2 separate regions of the Homo sapiens genome follow, and region 2 is linked to region 1. The links come from fine-mapping of genetic effects on gene expression. Tissue or cell type: monocytes after R848. Region 1 holds a variant in brackets; the other region holds the start of a gene. All regions are shown on one strand. Distances are between the middles of the regions.

Evidence for each region. PIP is the estimated chance that this variant, and not a neighbour inherited with it, causes the effect.
Region 2: DUSP18 starts here. The variant in region 1 is fine-mapped to the expression of DUSP18 in monocytes after R848 (Quach 2016, PIP 0.95). The same link has a PIP of 0.9 or more in monocytes, monocytes after LPS and monocytes after Pam3CSK4.

The regions. Positions count from the first base shown.
Region 1 is chr22:30,637,014-30,645,116 of GRCh38, forward strand. SLC35E4 (solute carrier family 35 member E4) reads left to right here. Exons shown (of 2, transcript NM_001001479.4): 1 at 1-56. Among named protein-coding and RNA genes, the nearest start is that of SLC35E4, 5.3 kb to the left of the region's middle. The variant C/T (reference allele first, on the strand shown) is at 4,205.
Region 2 is chr22:30,663,290-30,671,392 of GRCh38, forward strand. It overlaps DUSP18 (dual specificity phosphatase 18), which reads right to left and starts at 4,586. Exons shown (of 2, transcript NM_152511.5): 1 at 4,173-4,586; 2 at 1-791. The coding sequence starts at 714. The coding sequence ends at 148. It also overlaps a transcript of SLC35E4 not described here. RefSeq lists an enhancer at 4,684-5,073.

The sequences.
Region 1 (8,103 bases):
CTGTGGCTTCCTGCTCGCAGCCACCTGCCTCCGCGGACTCAAGTCGGTTCAGCAAAGTAAGTGCCTGGGTGGCCAATTGAGAAGGTGGGGGTCCGGGTGGGTGCATGGCCTGGATGGCCCTGTGAGGGGTATGGCTGTTGTCCCATTTTACAAATGAGGAAACTGAGGTTCATGGCTGTGGAGGAAGCAGAACTGAGGCTCAGAGAGGGCCAACAGTTCAGTGAGTTCCAGGCCCCAGACTCAGGCTCTGGAGGCCCAACTCGTGTTTATTTGTTTATTTACTTATTTAGACAGGGTCTGGCTCTGTCACCCAGGCTGCATTGGTGAGATCTCAGCTCAATACAGCCTCCGCATCCTGGGTTCAAGTGATTCTTCTGCCTCAGCCTCCCAAGTAAGTGGGACTACAGGTGCACACCACCACGCTAAGCTAATTTTTGTATTTTTAGTAGAGACAGCATTTTACCATGTTGGCCAGGCTGATCTTGAACTCCTGACCTCCCAAGGTGCTAGGATTTCAAGCGTGAGCCACCCCACCTGGTCAGCTAATTTTTTTTTTTTATAGACACAGAGTCTTGCTATGTTGCCAAGGTAGGTCTTGAACTCCTGTCCTCAGCGATCTTCCCCCCTCAGCTTCCTGAAGTTCTGGAATTACAAACCAGTATTTAGTGATAGCCAGTGATCTGTGTTTGACTAGCCTTTTATCTCACTGTATTGTTCCCATTTGATAGATGAAGAGGCTTGCCCTGGGCCACGTGGCCAGTGAGCAGCAGAGGCAAGATCTAAACCCAGATAGTCAGACTCCATGCTTCCAAGAGATGTGGCCTGAGGCTTTGGACACAAAGGAAAGCCAGAAAGCATGGGCCAGGGAGAGAAAAGGAGGGTCTGGGATGAGCTGGGATTTGGAAGGTCAGGGGTCAGGTCTAAGTCTGGGGAGGGCTGTTGTTTACTGGGAGCTACAGTGTGACAGGCTTGGTGCTGAGTGTTGACCTTGAGTTGTCATGGCAACCACCAACTTTATCCCCATTTTACAGATGATGGGACTAAGACCCAGAGAAGTTCATGATTTGACAGGCTGGGCATGGTATCTCATGCCTGTAATCCCAGCACTTTGGGAGGCTGAGGTGGGAGGACTCTTGAGACCAGGAGTTCGAGACCACCCTGGCCAACATGGTGAAACCCTGTATCTATTAAAAATACAAAAATTGGGGCCGGGCGCGGTGTCTCATGCCTGTAATTCCAGCACTTTGGGAGGCTGAGGCGGGTGGATCATGAGGTCAGAAGTTCAAGAACAGACTAACCAAGGTGGTGAAACCCCATCTCTACTAAAAATACAAAAAAATTAACCGGGCGCCATGGCAGGTGTCTGTAATCCCAGCTACTCGGGAGGCTGAGGCAGGAGAATAGCTTGAACCCGGGTGGCAGAGGTTGCAGTGAGCCAAGATCGCCCCACTGCACTCCAGCCAAGGCGACAGAGTGAGACTCCATCTCAAAAAAAAAAAAAAAAAAAAAAAAATTGGGCCAGGCGCAGTGGCTCACAGCTGTAATCCCAGCACTTTGGGAGGCCGAGGCAAGTGGATCACCTGAGGTCAGGAGTTCGAGACCAGCCTGGCCAACATGGGGAAACCCTGTCTCTACTGAAAATACAAAAATTAGCTGAGCGTGATGGTGGGCGCCTGTAATCCCAGCTACTCAGGAGGCTGAGGTGAGAGAATCGCTTGAACCTGGGAGGCGGAGGTTGCAGTGAGCTGAGATCACGCTATTGCACTCCAGCCTGGGTAACAAGAGTGAAACTCTGTCTCAAAATTAGCCGGGCCAGGTGGCATGCACCTGTAATCCCAGCTACTGGGGAGGCTGAGGCATAAGAATTCCTTGAACCCGGGAGAAGGAGGTTGCAGTGAGCTGAGATTACACCACTGCACTCCAGCCTGGGCGACAGAATGAGACTCTGTCTCAAGAAAAAGAAAGAAGTTCAGCCCAGCGCAGTGGCTCACACCTGTAATCCCAGCACTTTGGGAGGCTGAGGTGTATTGGGGGAAATTCAGCCAGATATCGGGCGAAATTCACCCCTGATATTTCACGTAGGTTCTTTTCTGTATTACCTAAGTGTCAGCTGGTCTGAGAAATAAAGGGACAGAGTACAAAAGGGAGAAATTTTAAAGCTGGGTGTCCGGGGGAGACATCATATGTCGGCAGGTTCCGTGATGCCCCCTGAGCCATAAAACCAGCAAGTTTTGATTAGTGATTTTCAAAAGGGGAGGGAGTGTACCAATAGGATGTGGGTCACAGAGACCACGTGCTTCACAAGGTAATAGAATATCACAAGGCAAATGGAGGCAGGGCCAGATCACAGGACCATAGGACCGGGGTGAAATTAAAATTGCTAATGAAGTTTCGGGCACGCATTGTCATTGATAACATCTTATCAAGAGACAGGGTTTGAGAGCAGACAACCAGTCTGACCAAAATTTATTAGGCGGGAATTTCCTCGTCCTAATAAGCCTGGGAGCGCTATGGGAGACTGGGGCTTATTTCATCCCTACAGCTTCGACCATAAAAGATGGCCGCCCCCCAGAAGCAGCCATTTTAGAGGCCTACCCTCAGGGACGCATTCTCTTTCTCAAGGATGTCCCTTGCTGAGAAAAAGAATTCAGCAACATTTCTCCCATTTGCTTTTGAAAGAAGAGAAATATGGCTCTGTTCCACCCGGCTCACCGGCAGTCAGAGTTTAAGATTATCTCTCTTGTTCCCTGAACATTGCTGTTATCCTGTTCTTTCAAGGTGCCCAGATTTCATATTGTTCAAACACACATGCTCTACAATTTGTGCAGTTAACGCAATCATCACAGGGTCCTGAGGCGACATACAGCCTCCTCAGCTTACGAAGATGATGGGATTAAGAGATTAAAGATAGGCATAGGAAATCACAAGGGTATTGGTTGGAGAAGTGATAAGTGTCCATGAAATCTTCACAATTTATGTTCAGAGATTGCAGTAAAGACAGGCGTAAGAAATTACAAAAGTATTAATTTGGGAAACTAATAAATGTCCATGAAATCTTCACAATCCACGTTCTTCTGCAATGGCTTCAGCTGGTCCCTCCGTTTGGGGTCCCTGACTTCCCGCAACAGAGGTGGGAGGATCACGAGGTCAGGAGATCAAGACCATCCTGGCCAACGTGGTGAAACCCTGTCTACTAAAATTACAAAAATTAGCTGGGCGTGGTGGCGCCTGCCTGTAATCCCCCCTACTCGGGAACCTGAGGCAGGAGAATCACTTGAACCCAGGAGGCAGAGGTTGCAGTGAGCCGAGATCACGCCACTGCACTCCAGCCTAGGGACAGAGCTAGACTCCATCTCAAAAAAAAAAAAAAAAAGAAGAAAGAAAGAAAGAAGTTCATGATTTGCACAGAGGTCACGGGGTCCCTAATGATGTGAAGCATGGTCTATGTGACTCCAGATGCTGGCTCTGATGAAAGAGGGCAGCAGGGCTCTGGGCAGTTTAGGGCCGAGGCTCCAGGCCCAGACCCACTAGATCATTCTGCCTGAGGGCGAAGGCTGGCTTCCTGCCTTTCCTACTGAGGGGCATCTGAGTCGCAGCCTCTATCCTCTCTCTGCCTCAACCCAAGGAGACATAGGGGAGGCCAGGGTGCCCACTCAGGGTGGGGAGGCCTGGGTTCCAGCCATACCTTTGCTCATATTTGCTGGGCAACCTTGGGCATATTGGGATTTTATCTGGGCCTCAGTTTCCTCATCTGTCAGTGGAGGAGAGTTGGAGTTGATGGAGTCCAAGGGGCCTCTTGCTCTCCCTTCGCCCTGAGATCCTGTGACCCAGGCCTGGGAGAAGGAAGTGGGCACACCAAGAGTGCTGGGCTGGGATTGATGACAGCCCACAGCCAGGGAAGATTGAAGTCAGAGTTCAGCCCTGCCCTGGCGTATTCAGAGCTGACACAGAGGCCCTATCTCTATCCTCCCTGGCTCCAAGGCAGGGTCAAAACCCAGTTCTATTTTTTGCCCTCAGGTTACATGAGAGCTAGAGGCTGAGCACAGGCATGAGCTCTGGGCATGAGTCTGCACTGGGAAACCTGACCTGTGGGCACCCCTGTGCAGGCCACAGGGCTGTGAAGGTCCTAACCTCAAGGCCCATGCTGCCCCTGCTGAGAAAGAGTCAGTGCTTCTCACACTGGGACCCAGGCAGCCCCAGCCTG[C/T]AGGAGGGGCAATGGCCGGCCAGGCCTCAGGCACTTGGGCATGGAGTGGCATGTGCCTGGCATCGGGCTGCATCTTGACTCCTGCCAGCTCCCTCCTTCCCTCCCTCCCTAGTCTTAACTCCTGACCCCTGGGAGGTTGAGTCCTTGCTCTGGGCTCCTGCGGTATCCTCTGCTCCCCCTATCATGGTTCCAAATGCCATGTATGATCACCACCTGGTTACCTGTCTGCTGCCTGCCAGACAGATTTGGGGCAATTCTATGTTCCTGGAACCTAGCCCTGGGGCCTTGCAGAGGATACATAATTTGTAAATTATAATTTTTAAATTTTATTTTATTATTTTTTTTTTTGAGACAATCTCTCTCTGTCGCCCAGGCTGGAATGCAGCAGTGCAATCTCAGCTCATTGCAACCTCTGCCTCCTGGTTTCAAGCAATTCTTGTGCCTCAGCCTCCTGAGTAGCTGGGACTACAGGCTCATGCCACCGTCCTGGCTAATTTTTAATTTTTTTTTTTTTTTTTTTTTTTTTTTAGAAACAGGCTCACTATGTTGCCCAGGCTGGTCTCAAACCCCTGGCCTCAAGTGATCTTCCCTCCGGGCCTCCCAAAGTGCTGGAATTACAGGTGTGAGCCAACATGCCGACAGATTTACTGATGGCTCTGACAGGCGAGCTGATCTCATAGACTGGTTGGGCTGCCTGATTCAGGAGGGAGTTTAGGGGGCTAGAGGCCCCACTAACAGAGATAGGAGCCCTGCAGAGATGGGGAGGAACAGACTTGAGCCAGGGCCTGAGATAGGCTTTTTTTGCTTGTTTGTTTGTTTGTTTATGAGAGGGTCTTGCTCTGTCATCCAGGCTGGAGTGCAGTGGCTCACTGCGGCCTCAATTTCCCAGGCTCGGGCAATCCTCCCACCTCAGCCTCCCGAGTAGCTAGGACTATAGGCGTGCCTCCATGCCCAGCTAATTTTTGTATTTTTTGTAGAAATGGGGTTTCATCATGTTGCCCAGGCTGGTCTCCAACTCCTAGACTCAAGTGATTTACCCACCTCGGCCTAAAGTGCTGGGATTACGGGCATGAGCCACCACACCCAGCCTGAGATAGGTTTTGAACAAAAGGTTTCTACTGCAGGAGGCTCCAGGAGAGGCACCAGGGCCAGATTCAGACGTGAGTGTACGTGGCTGATGCCAGCTCCATTCCTGAGAGCAGAGTTTGTGGGAGCAGAGGGCAAGTATCCAGAAAGAAGGCTGGGCATGGTGGCTCACGCCTGTAATCCCAGCACTTTGGGAAGCCAAGGCAGGCAGCTCACTTGAGGTCAGGAGTTCGAGACCAGCCTGGCCAGCATGGTGAATCCCCGTCTCTACTAAAAATACAAAAAAAATTAGCTGGGCATGCTGGTGCATGCCTGTCATCCCAGCTACTCGGGAGGCTGAGGTAGGAGAATCTCTTGAACCAGGGAGGCGGAGGTTGCAGTGAGCCGAGATATCACACCATTGCACTCTAGCCTGGGCAACATCTCAAAAAAAAAAAAAAAAAAGGCCAGGCACGGTGGTTCACACCTGTAATCCCAGCACTTTGGGAGGCCAAGGTGGGTGGATCATGAGGTCAGGAGATTGAGACCATCCTGGCTAACACAGTGAAACCCCGTCTCTACTAAAAAATACAAAAAAATAGCCAGGTGTGGTGGTGGGCACCTGTAGTCCCAGCTAGTCGGGAGGCTGAGGCAGGAGAATGGCGTGAACCCGGGAGGCGGAGCTTGCAGTGAGCCCAGATAGCGCTACTACACTCCAGCCTGGGCGACAGAGTGAGACTCCGTCTCAAAAAAAAAAAAAAAAAAGTATCCAGAAAGAGGAGAGCCCAGGCAGCTGTTGGCAGGGCCAGCGACTTCCCTCCTTCTTGGGCCAGTTGTAGGCCCAGGGAGCCTGCACAAGGAGAGGGGTTATGCCATCCTCCTACCCACAGAAAGGGTGGGAAGTGGGGCGCCAGCCTGCTGAGCTTGCTCTCAGCTGGACTCCCCCGCCCGTCCGCATCACAGAGCAGGCGGACTCAACCCCTCTGAGCTCTCAGGCTGATGGGGGAGATGCACTCAGATATAGAGATCATGATGGCAGAAAAGAAGTTCTAGAGTCAAAGTGGTCACACGTGTTGGGGAGCGGTTGCTTCTTCCTGGGGAGCGCTGAGAAGGCTATCTAGGGGAAGAGACATGCAATGATGATGACAATAATGTAACCATGAGAGCAAACATTTGTTGGGGCCTCCCTAGGTGCCCACACCATGCCCAGCTCTTCATACTGAAGGAGGAGGAAAGGGTGATCTGGGAATGGGAAACAGGCCGTGCCAGGGCACAGGGTGTCAGCCAGCAGGAGCAGGGTGTGGGGATCATGCCAGCTGCCGGGGTGAGCCGGCATCAAGGACATCACACAGGGCATCAGGCCCTGTGTTCAGCACCTCACATGTGAGGGGGCTGTTGCTACCCGAGCCACACGACTTAAGGAGACTGAGGCGTGGAGAGAGGGAGACAGTATCACACAGCCCGTGAAAGAGCAAAAGGGCCAAGCCAATAGCAAGCAGACAGGGTTTAGAGAAGGGTCAGCTGTTGTCTGCATGTGGCAGAAACTTGGGCATGTTCCAATAGAAGGAGAGGTGGCAATGAGGCAGGACAAACAGGCTGACATTTTGGGGTCCCCAGGTAGAAGCCAGTCACCGCCTCTGACAGCGAATGGCTGCCCTTTCCCTGGGCTGCAGGGAGGGGAGGTGGAGGATTGGGTGGGATGTACAATAGGTGTGAGGAGATGGGTGGGAAGTTTAGGACCTTCCTGCCTGGCTGCCTTGCAGAGGGTGAAATTTACCAAAGGTGAAGTTCACCTGAAAACCCAACCGCCTTCTTGTGATGGGACGTTTAATGTGCAAGCCACAGGTAGCTCATAACACTGTTAACTTTCGAGCCTGCGAGCAGGAGGCATTCTGATTATCTGTTCATTTCTAGAAACGCTTGAGCCAGAGGGACTGTTTGTTGCCTAGAGAACAAAGCTAAAACATCGGAATGAAATTGAGAGAGAAATAAAATTTCCTATTCTAAGCATAGCCTATGAGTAAGCATCTCTGTGGCTTTTTGGAAAGTGTGTGTCAGAAAATGCATAGAGGCTCACAGAGGCCTGGGAGGGGACCTGTGTCGACTACTCATCTCTCTCCACTAACTTGGCAAAGGCCCCATGCCATCATTGCCCTCATGCAAATAATGTCATTTCAGCCAGGCGCAATGGCTCACACCTGTAATCCCAGCACTTTGGGAGGCCAAGCTGAGCAGATTGCTTGAGTCTAGGAGTTTGAGACCAGCCTGGGTGAACCAGATGACGAAACCCCATCTCTACAAAAAATACAAAAATTTTCAGGGGTGATGGTGCATGCCTGTAGCCCCAGCTACTTGGGAGGCTGAGAAGGGAGGATCGCTTGAGCTCGGAAGGCAGTAAACTGACATCGTACCACTACACTCCAGCCTGGGCAAGAGAACCAGACCCTGTCTCAAATAATAATAATAATGTCATTTCGCCTGGGCAAGAGAACCAGACCCTGTCTCAAATAATAATAATAATGTCATTTCGCCTGGGCACCCCTTTGTGAATTGGCTGGTGGTGGCATGTGTACACGTAGGTACACACAGATACACAGTCACACATAGGCAAAGCAGCAAGATCCCCTCCTGCCTTACAAAGTGAAAAGGTTTCCTCTTAGTCCTGGATTCATCTTGACAAGCCACAGTATTAGCAGGAAAAAAAAAAGATGCTGATTATCAGTTATAAACAGTGAGTGAGAGCCAAGATCCCACAATGACCTTTTGTCCCCTTGTCACTCCAGTGGTCATAAGTGAATGAGGCAATGAATGGGTCACACTTTTGACCCAATTTA
Region 2 (8,103 bases), 26 kb after region 1:
GCTACAGCAACTCTTTTTTGTGCTCATAAAAGGCATCATCTGTTTTTTTCTGTATCAACAAAAGTAGAATGTTCAAGTTTGGATCTTGGTGTAAGATCAACAATAGATCTGTACCTCTGACTCCAATGCAGGGGCTCGTGGGATGGCTCACAGTGGAATCATCAAACGGACTTCCTTCTCATAGATGTCAGGGATCATTCCCACTGGGGAACTGACCATGTGCACAGTGTTCTTGCCAAACAATTGGAACTCATAGTGGATGAGCTGCTCCCAAAAGCCGCTGTTGGGTCGGATGATGGGCCGGCATGACTTGGTCCACGTGTGGGCGTCCAGCAGGGACATGGCGTGGTACTTCATGAGGTAGGCGAGGCACAGGGCAGCTGAGCGGCTCACACCAGCAGCACAGTGCAGCAAAGTACGGCCCTGCTTCATCTCCACGCTGTGGATATGGTCAGCAATAGGGTCAAAGAAGTCACAGAGACGTGAGTTAGGGGAGTCAGCCACAGGTACCTGCATGTACTGGATATCCTCATACAAGGTGTTCACTACCTCCACTGAGACATTGATGACCATGGTGATCTGGTTGCTAGACAGCATGAGCTTGTTGTTGGCGGCCACACCATTGCTGATATACAGGCTTTTGGTTATCTGCGAGAGGCCGCTGACTGAGGGCTGCCGGAACTGAACTGGGAAGGCACACGAGGGTGCTGTCATCAAGGCGGTGGGTCAGTGGTCAGCAGTCAGCGAAGCACGAAGGCTGCGTCTTTCTGCTAGGCTGTGTCCATGGAAAACTGCAGAGAGGGAGAGGATGTTTAGAGGGCAGGTGCCCAGAGGGCCAATTCCAGGGGATCCCTGGGAAATGGATGGATAGGCTTATAGCATTCCCCAAGGCAGTCCTCTGACCATCACAGCAGAACTACCCAGCAAACTCATTTAAAGTACAGATACCCAGGTCCCTCTCCAAACCCACAGTCAGACTCTCGGGGTGAAGAGCATGAATCTGCATTTTCAGCATGCTTCTCAGGTGGTCTAATGTGCACTGCCCTATAGGACAAATGGCAAGTCCCCAAGTCTGGCACTTGAGGCCTCCCTTGAGGGGTCCCACAGCTCTAGTTGGGCAGATGACTTGTGTCCCTCAGCTGTGCCTTGGCCTGATTCTCCATTTAAGCTCACAGAGCCCTTTTCTTGCTGCTCTTCCAAATTCTCTCCTTCCTTCCAGCCCCTCTGAGTGGGAACCATTTGTACAGTCTTCCTCCTCAGTCTTCTGACTTTATGCCCAAATCATAAGGTCCTGAGCCAGTGGCATGGAACCAGAGCCCACTGTGCTGGCAGTCACTGAGGAGGCTGGTATAAGAGTAGGGAGGGTTCCCATTTTCCCCCTCTAAGAACCATCTCTTTAAAGAGACAGGATATGCCCATGCGAAGCTGATGTCAAATACAAAGTCCTAAATTGTTAGACATGCTCCTGCACCTTGCCTCTGAAGAAGGCCTGGGAAAGGGAGTGGCTGAAAGCTTCCTGGAAGCCAGCATAATGGGCACCACAGCAACCCCAGGGACAAGCACAGAGACAGCAGGGCCTTAGGAAGACCTGCCACACCTGCATCATGCTGCCTGCAGCAGAGCTGTGAAACACACCCCAGGGAGAGGCAGACCCCTTCCCTTCACCTGCTCGATAGGCTCAGTCGCCGCTAAGTAATTGGGGTAGAGGTTCAGCCGCAGATCTGCTTCCCGCGCCGCAGACCGTGCAGTCGTCGGTGCTCCTCAGGTGCGGCCTGGGTGCCCAGAGCATTCATTAGACTCTCGGACCCTCACTTTCTCAGTCTTAAACAAAGCTGCAAAAACCAGGACATCTTTATACATTCCGCTGAAATAGGGACATTTGGATTTAGATCACACCTTTCAAGGCCAAGTGGCAGTCTTCACCAGGCACGAGAAATGAGGAGCCAAAGTTTTGTTTCCCTGCTTAATATATTTCAGTGGCTATCCACTGTGAGGATAAGATGGAGCCACTTAGTTTGGCTGTCAAGGCCATTTGTGACCTGGCTCCTGCCTGTCTCTCCAGCCTCTTATTAGGCTTCTCCATGCTCTGAAGGGCCTCAGGTGAACCGAGCCACTTACAGTTCCTTAGGGACAACCTGTCCTCTCCAGCCAGTGGCCTTTGCCCCTGCTGATCTCTCAGTCTCTTTCCTTATGAACCCATCAGATCCTGATCTGGTCCATTCAGCAGAGGACTGCAGAAGTCTGAGGAGCCTTAAGATATCAACTTAAAGGTAACTGTTTTAAGGGAAATCTCCTTAGATCACACCCCTCCCTCACGTTTGACCAACTCTGCTCCAGGCTTTCTTAGCCCTATGTTCTCTCCTTCCTAACACTTACTGAAGACGTAGTTTTGCTCCGATCTGTCTGATTATTTGATTAATGTCTGTCTCCCCAAGAGACTGTGAGCCCTTTAGGGATATGATGGTGTCTGTCTTCACTCCCACTCTATCACCAACTAGTGCCAAGCGCTGTGTCCCCACAAGTAGGTGCTTGATAAATATTTGTTGAATGAAGAAATGACTCCCAACAGCTATGACTCTGCCTTCTGAGAGGTTTTCTGGAAAGAATGAGTTCTCTGGCAGCGTGTCTCCAGAATTCCAGGGAGGGGCTGGGTGGGGATGGGGGTGGTTCTGAGGCTACTAAAGAGAAAGACCAAAGGTTGTATAGGCAAATCCTACCTGCCAATGCCCCAGACTCAAATGCATCAGGCTCATTCCCGGAAGGACAGAGAGGGCTGGCTTGCTACAGAGGTGATATGAAGGGCAAAGAAAAAGCCTCCTGAACCCAGATGGAAGTCTAAATGCTAAGGAATGTTCTGGATCCTCGTCATCAGAAAATCCATAGAGAAGTGAACTGATGTCCCCCCAAACCAGTGCCCAGTGGGTAACGGGAATAGAGGAATGTGCTGTTCATTATAGCCACTAAAAGTCTGCAGAAGTGACAATGCTCTTGCAGGTGAGGGTAGTGATGCGAGGAGTCATTTTCATGCTAGTTAAGAAATATCTATCAGGGCTGGGCACGGTGGCTTAAGCCTATAATCCCAGCACTTTGGAAGGCCGAGGCGGGCAGATCACCTGAGGTCAGGAGTTCAAGACCAGCCTGACCAACATGGTGAAACCCCCGTCTCTACTAAAAATACAAAAATTAGCCAGGCGTGGTGGCATGGGCCTGTAGTCCCAGCTACTCAGGAGGCTGAGACGGGAGAATTGCTTGAACCCGGGAGGCGGAGGCTGCAGTGAGCCAAGATCGTGCCACTGCACTCCAGCCTGGGAGACAGCGTGAGACTCCATCTCAAAAAAAAAAAAAAAAAAAAAAAAAGCAATCTCTATCAGGCACTGTATTAGGTGTTGGAGATACTGAAATGTACAAGACAGGCATGGCCCCTTTTCTCAGGGAGCTCAAAGACTAGTGGGAGAAACAGATAGTAAACAGGCAATTACAGGCAGACAGAGCTTGAAAATAGGATAACAGTACCTACCTTAAAAGGATGTTGTGAAATTAAACGAGATAATCCACGTAAAGAGTTTTCTCAGGGCTTGGCATAGAGTAAGCCCTCTCAAAATGATAACTATTTTTCTCGCTTCTGATAGGGAAGTTAAAATGCAGGGCTCTGTGAAAGGGAAGTGTAAAAAAGATTTCTTCCAGGTCGGAGCCTAGGGAGTCGCAAAGACCACCTGAAGAAATCACAAAAGATCTAAAGAACGTTTAGCTTGAGAGGGAGGAGGAGAAAAAAATAGCAACTCGGTAGCAGTTCAGCTTCACCACTTTACAGCCTATGAAGTATTTGGCTTCCCTCATCTGGTTCGATCTTCAAAGCAACCTAATCAGACCGGCGTCTAGAGTTAATATTTCCATTTTACAAAAGAGGAAAGTGAGACACAGCGCGGAAAAGGACTTGTTCAGAACGAGTCATAAAGCAAAGAAGCCGACCTTTATGGTCCATTATGTGTGGGAAAAATGAACAAACACCGCGGGGCGTTCGTGAAATACTAAGTTATAAACATGGAACAAAGTCCAAGAGTTAACGAGAGCGAAGCATCACTTCTAGGGGTGGGCCGGGTAGGTTTCCTAGGGGAGCTGGCATTGGAATAGGCTTCTTCGCCTGCTTAGTGTCAGGACCCCCAGGGTTTTACCTCTCTCCTTCAGGCGGGTGGGCGGGTTCGCTCAGGAAGTAGCCGCTTGGGGAAGCCTTAGGCAAGGTTCTTCGGGAGAGAGACCCGTCATGATCCCGCAGCCTCAATCCCCGCTGGCCTAACGCTTTGGTTTCCATAGCAATGGGCTCGTCGCAGAAAGGAATAGCCTGTGCCGGGTCTTCAGAGAAATCCTGGCCTCGGCTCCACGCCCCTGAGCAGCCCCACCCTGGCTCAACCTGTTACCCGCCCTGCCGGCAAGCCGGGGTCACTGCAGTCCCCGTGGCGAAGCAGGGTCAGCTCAGCTCACCGCACCCCACTCCATCCAGCCCTGCCCATCTCTACGGCAACGGGCCGGGTCGCACCAGGGCTGCAGCCGAGAGACAGTCTCACCGCTTCCGTAGCCGCCCGGGCTCTGTGCGCATGTGCGACACTCCCTCCCCGGCCCCGCCCCCTTATGCGTCTCCCAGGCAACGCGCCGCGCGGGGCTCCAGGTTCCGCCCAGGGACTAACTCCAGGTCTGCGCGCGTCCAACGAGCACGGCTCTCAACCGGCCTCCTGGCGCCCAACGACCATGGCTTCCAACCGGCCTCCGTGCGCCCAACGACCATGACTCCCAACCGGCCTCCAGTTTCCAACTGTTTCTCGAACAGGGAAGCCGCCATGACACAGCTGACTACGCCCTTGGTCACAGGGGACCTGAGATCCTCCACGATTTACGGGACCGGCGCCACCTCGGGCTCGAACCACCCTCTCGATAGGGCCGCCGCTAAGTAATCGGCGTAGGGGTTCAGCCGCACATCTCCTTCCCGCGCCGCGGACCGAGCAGTCGTTGGTGCTCTTCAGGTGCGGCCTGGGTGCCCAGAGCCTTCGTTAGACTCTCGGACCCGCAAGGGAGCCCGAACTCTTTCAGACTCGCTCTCCCTCAGCCGGACCTCGGCCCTTTTTCACACCCCAGGGGAGTCTGGATTTCTCATAGTCCTGGGCACCAGCCCCTTCCCAGTCTAGCTCTTGGGACTCCCTGAAGCCGGAACTCCCTCGCCTGGACTCCCGGGAGAACCTGGAATCCCCATCTCCAGTCCACATTTTCTCAGAATCTGTCCTAGCCCTTCAGTCTCCCAGGCATGACATCGTGTGGTCCCAGCGCCCTAGGTGGTGAGCTGTGACTCTCCTTAGAGCCTGGCGAGGCCGAGGTCCTCCCCAGCTCGAACCCATCCCACACTCCCCTTCTCAGCCTCTGTGTTCCCCAGTGGTCCTGGAAAAGCCCCCAGTTCCCTCTGCCTGGCCCCAATCCTCACAAACCCAATTACCCACGCTCCTTTCCATTCCATAACCCCCATCACTGCATCCTCCAGGCTCCCATCCATGGAGGACTTGAGGTGGAAAGCAATTTGGTTCAAAATAACCATTATTTATTACTTGAAAGGGAATATTTCCAGTCGTTGCCAGCCTCCTCCCCTTCTAGTATTGGTAAATTTTTTGCACCACTGAGTGGGTGAAGAGTTTTATGCGTCTTTAAATGTTTTAAGGATTTTTTTAAAAAAACAAAAAACTCTCAGGATTTGGGGGACTTTTGTGTTTGAGCATCTTGATCTCTAAACCAGCTTTTTCCATCACCTCACACCTAGGCTATGCATAGAGGTCAGAAAAATGTAAATGAGAGATTGAGAAGTTGGATTGTTCATACTAGTTTGTAAATATGAAAACATTCACAACACTCCAGTTCCAAATAGGCTGAAAATGCATTAGAAAAACTAGTCCTTCAATATTTTTTATCCTTCTACAGTTGTCTTTTTTGACCCAATTATAAAAGTAGTGTACACTTATAGAAAAATGAGGACAGGCATGGTGGCTCACGCTTGTATTCCCACCACTTCACTTTGAAACGCTGAGGCAGTTGGATCACCTGAGCTCAGGAGTTCGAGACCAGCCTGGGCAACAGGGTGAAACCCCATCTCTACCAAAAATACAAAAAATTAGCCGGGCTTGGTGGCTCACCTGTGGTCCCAGTTACTCAGGAGGCTGAGGTGGGAGGATCACTTGAGCCTGGGATGTGGAGGTTGCAGTGAGCTGAGATTGTGCCACTACTCTCCAACCTGGGGGACAGAGTGAGACCCCGTCTCGAAGAAATAAAAAGAAGACAAGACAGGCCAGCAGCATAAGTGGCTAGGGACAATCACTGTTAACATTTTGGTGTATTTTGATCAGAATCCATTCATATATATATATATATATATATATATATATGTTACAACATGCTTATACTTAAAAAAGATACATCACAAAAGTTCACTTTTTAGTAACCTGCTTTTTTCTCCCATCTAATATACCACCCGTCTATGTTTCATACACAATTACATGTATTTTATTTTATGACATACCAAAATTTATTCAATTGCTTCCATACTGTAGATTTTGTTTCCGCATTTTAGAAAGAAAATATGAACAATTTTTTTTTTGAGACAGAGTCTAGCTCTGTGGCCCAGGCCCGAGTGCAGTGGCACAGTCTTGGCTCACTGCAACCTCTGCCTCCTGGGTTCCAGTGATTCTCCTGCCTTAGCCTCCTGATTAGCTGGGATTACAGGTGCTCACCACTACACCCGGCTAATTTTTGTATTTTTAGTAGAGATGGGGTTTCACCATGTTGGCCAGGCTGGTCTCGAACTCCTGACCTCAAGTGATCTGCCCACCTTGGCCTCCCAAAGTGCTGGGATTATAGGCCTCAGCCACTGTGCCTGATCCTGAAGAATTATTTTTAAATGGGCAAAACCATTTAAAGGTATTTATTTGTAAGACTACTTCATGGTGTAACCAAATTATCAAAAAGTGAAAATGCAGTGCTTAGAAGTATATCCACTCTTCAGCATTTCCTCATTTTGACCAGATTGTTATATTTTCACCTGGAGTACCTAGCTCCATTCTACCCCACCCCACCCCATGTTTCACCTCACCTTTCAGAGTCTCCTAAAACCCCTGTCCACCCCACACCTCCCTATTCTAAATTTTCCCCAAACCTTCTTCTGGAATTCCCCTATTAACCAGCCTAACATCTGTCCAAACTCTTACTTTTATTTCTCCCTGCTCTGATCTATACTCCCCCAAGCCCCCGCCTCCCAGATCCCCTTTAGGCACAGGGTCTAGAGCAAGTGCTCCCCAAGCTAAACACCTCTCAAATTCATCCTTCGAACCCTACTCTACAACTTTTACTCCTCCCCTCTAAGACCCCTCTCTCCCATTTCATCCTTAAGAAGGATCATCAAGATGACTGCTTTTGGCTGGGTGGGCATGGTGGCTCTCACGCATGTAATCCTACCACTTTGGGAGCCCAAGGCAGGCATATCTCTTGAGGTCAGGAGTTCGAGACTAGCCTGGCCAACATGGTGAAACCCCGTCTCTACTAAAAATACAAAAATTAGCCAGGTGTGGTGGCGCATGCCTGTAATCCTAGCTGCTCGGGAGGCTGAGGCAGGAGAATCGCTTGAACCCGGGAGGTGGAGGTTGCAGTGAGCCGAGATTGTGCCACTGCATTCCAGCCTGGGAGACAGAATGAAACTCCATCTCAAAAAAACAAAAGACTGCTTTGGAAGATGGTTCTGAGTTCCTGATAACCCTTCTCTTGTGGACTGCACTGGGGCCCTTTTACAAACACAGAATTGCTTTTCTTCTGGGTGTCCATGAAACACCCCTTTAGCATATCTTTCCACAAGAAGAAACTGTGGTTACTCCCTTGCTTCTCTGAAAATTGTAACAGAGCTGCACTTGTCCTAAGATACCCGGGGAAGCCTCAGCCACTCCCCCAGGACCCTGTCAAATCTGCTCTGGCCCTGGCCTCAGCCATCTGTAACCTGTGTCACCTTTCCCTCCCCGCTCCAGCTTAATGATTCCAGTGAAGCAGCAGTGAAAAATTTTTTACTCATATAAAAAGAGCAGTTTA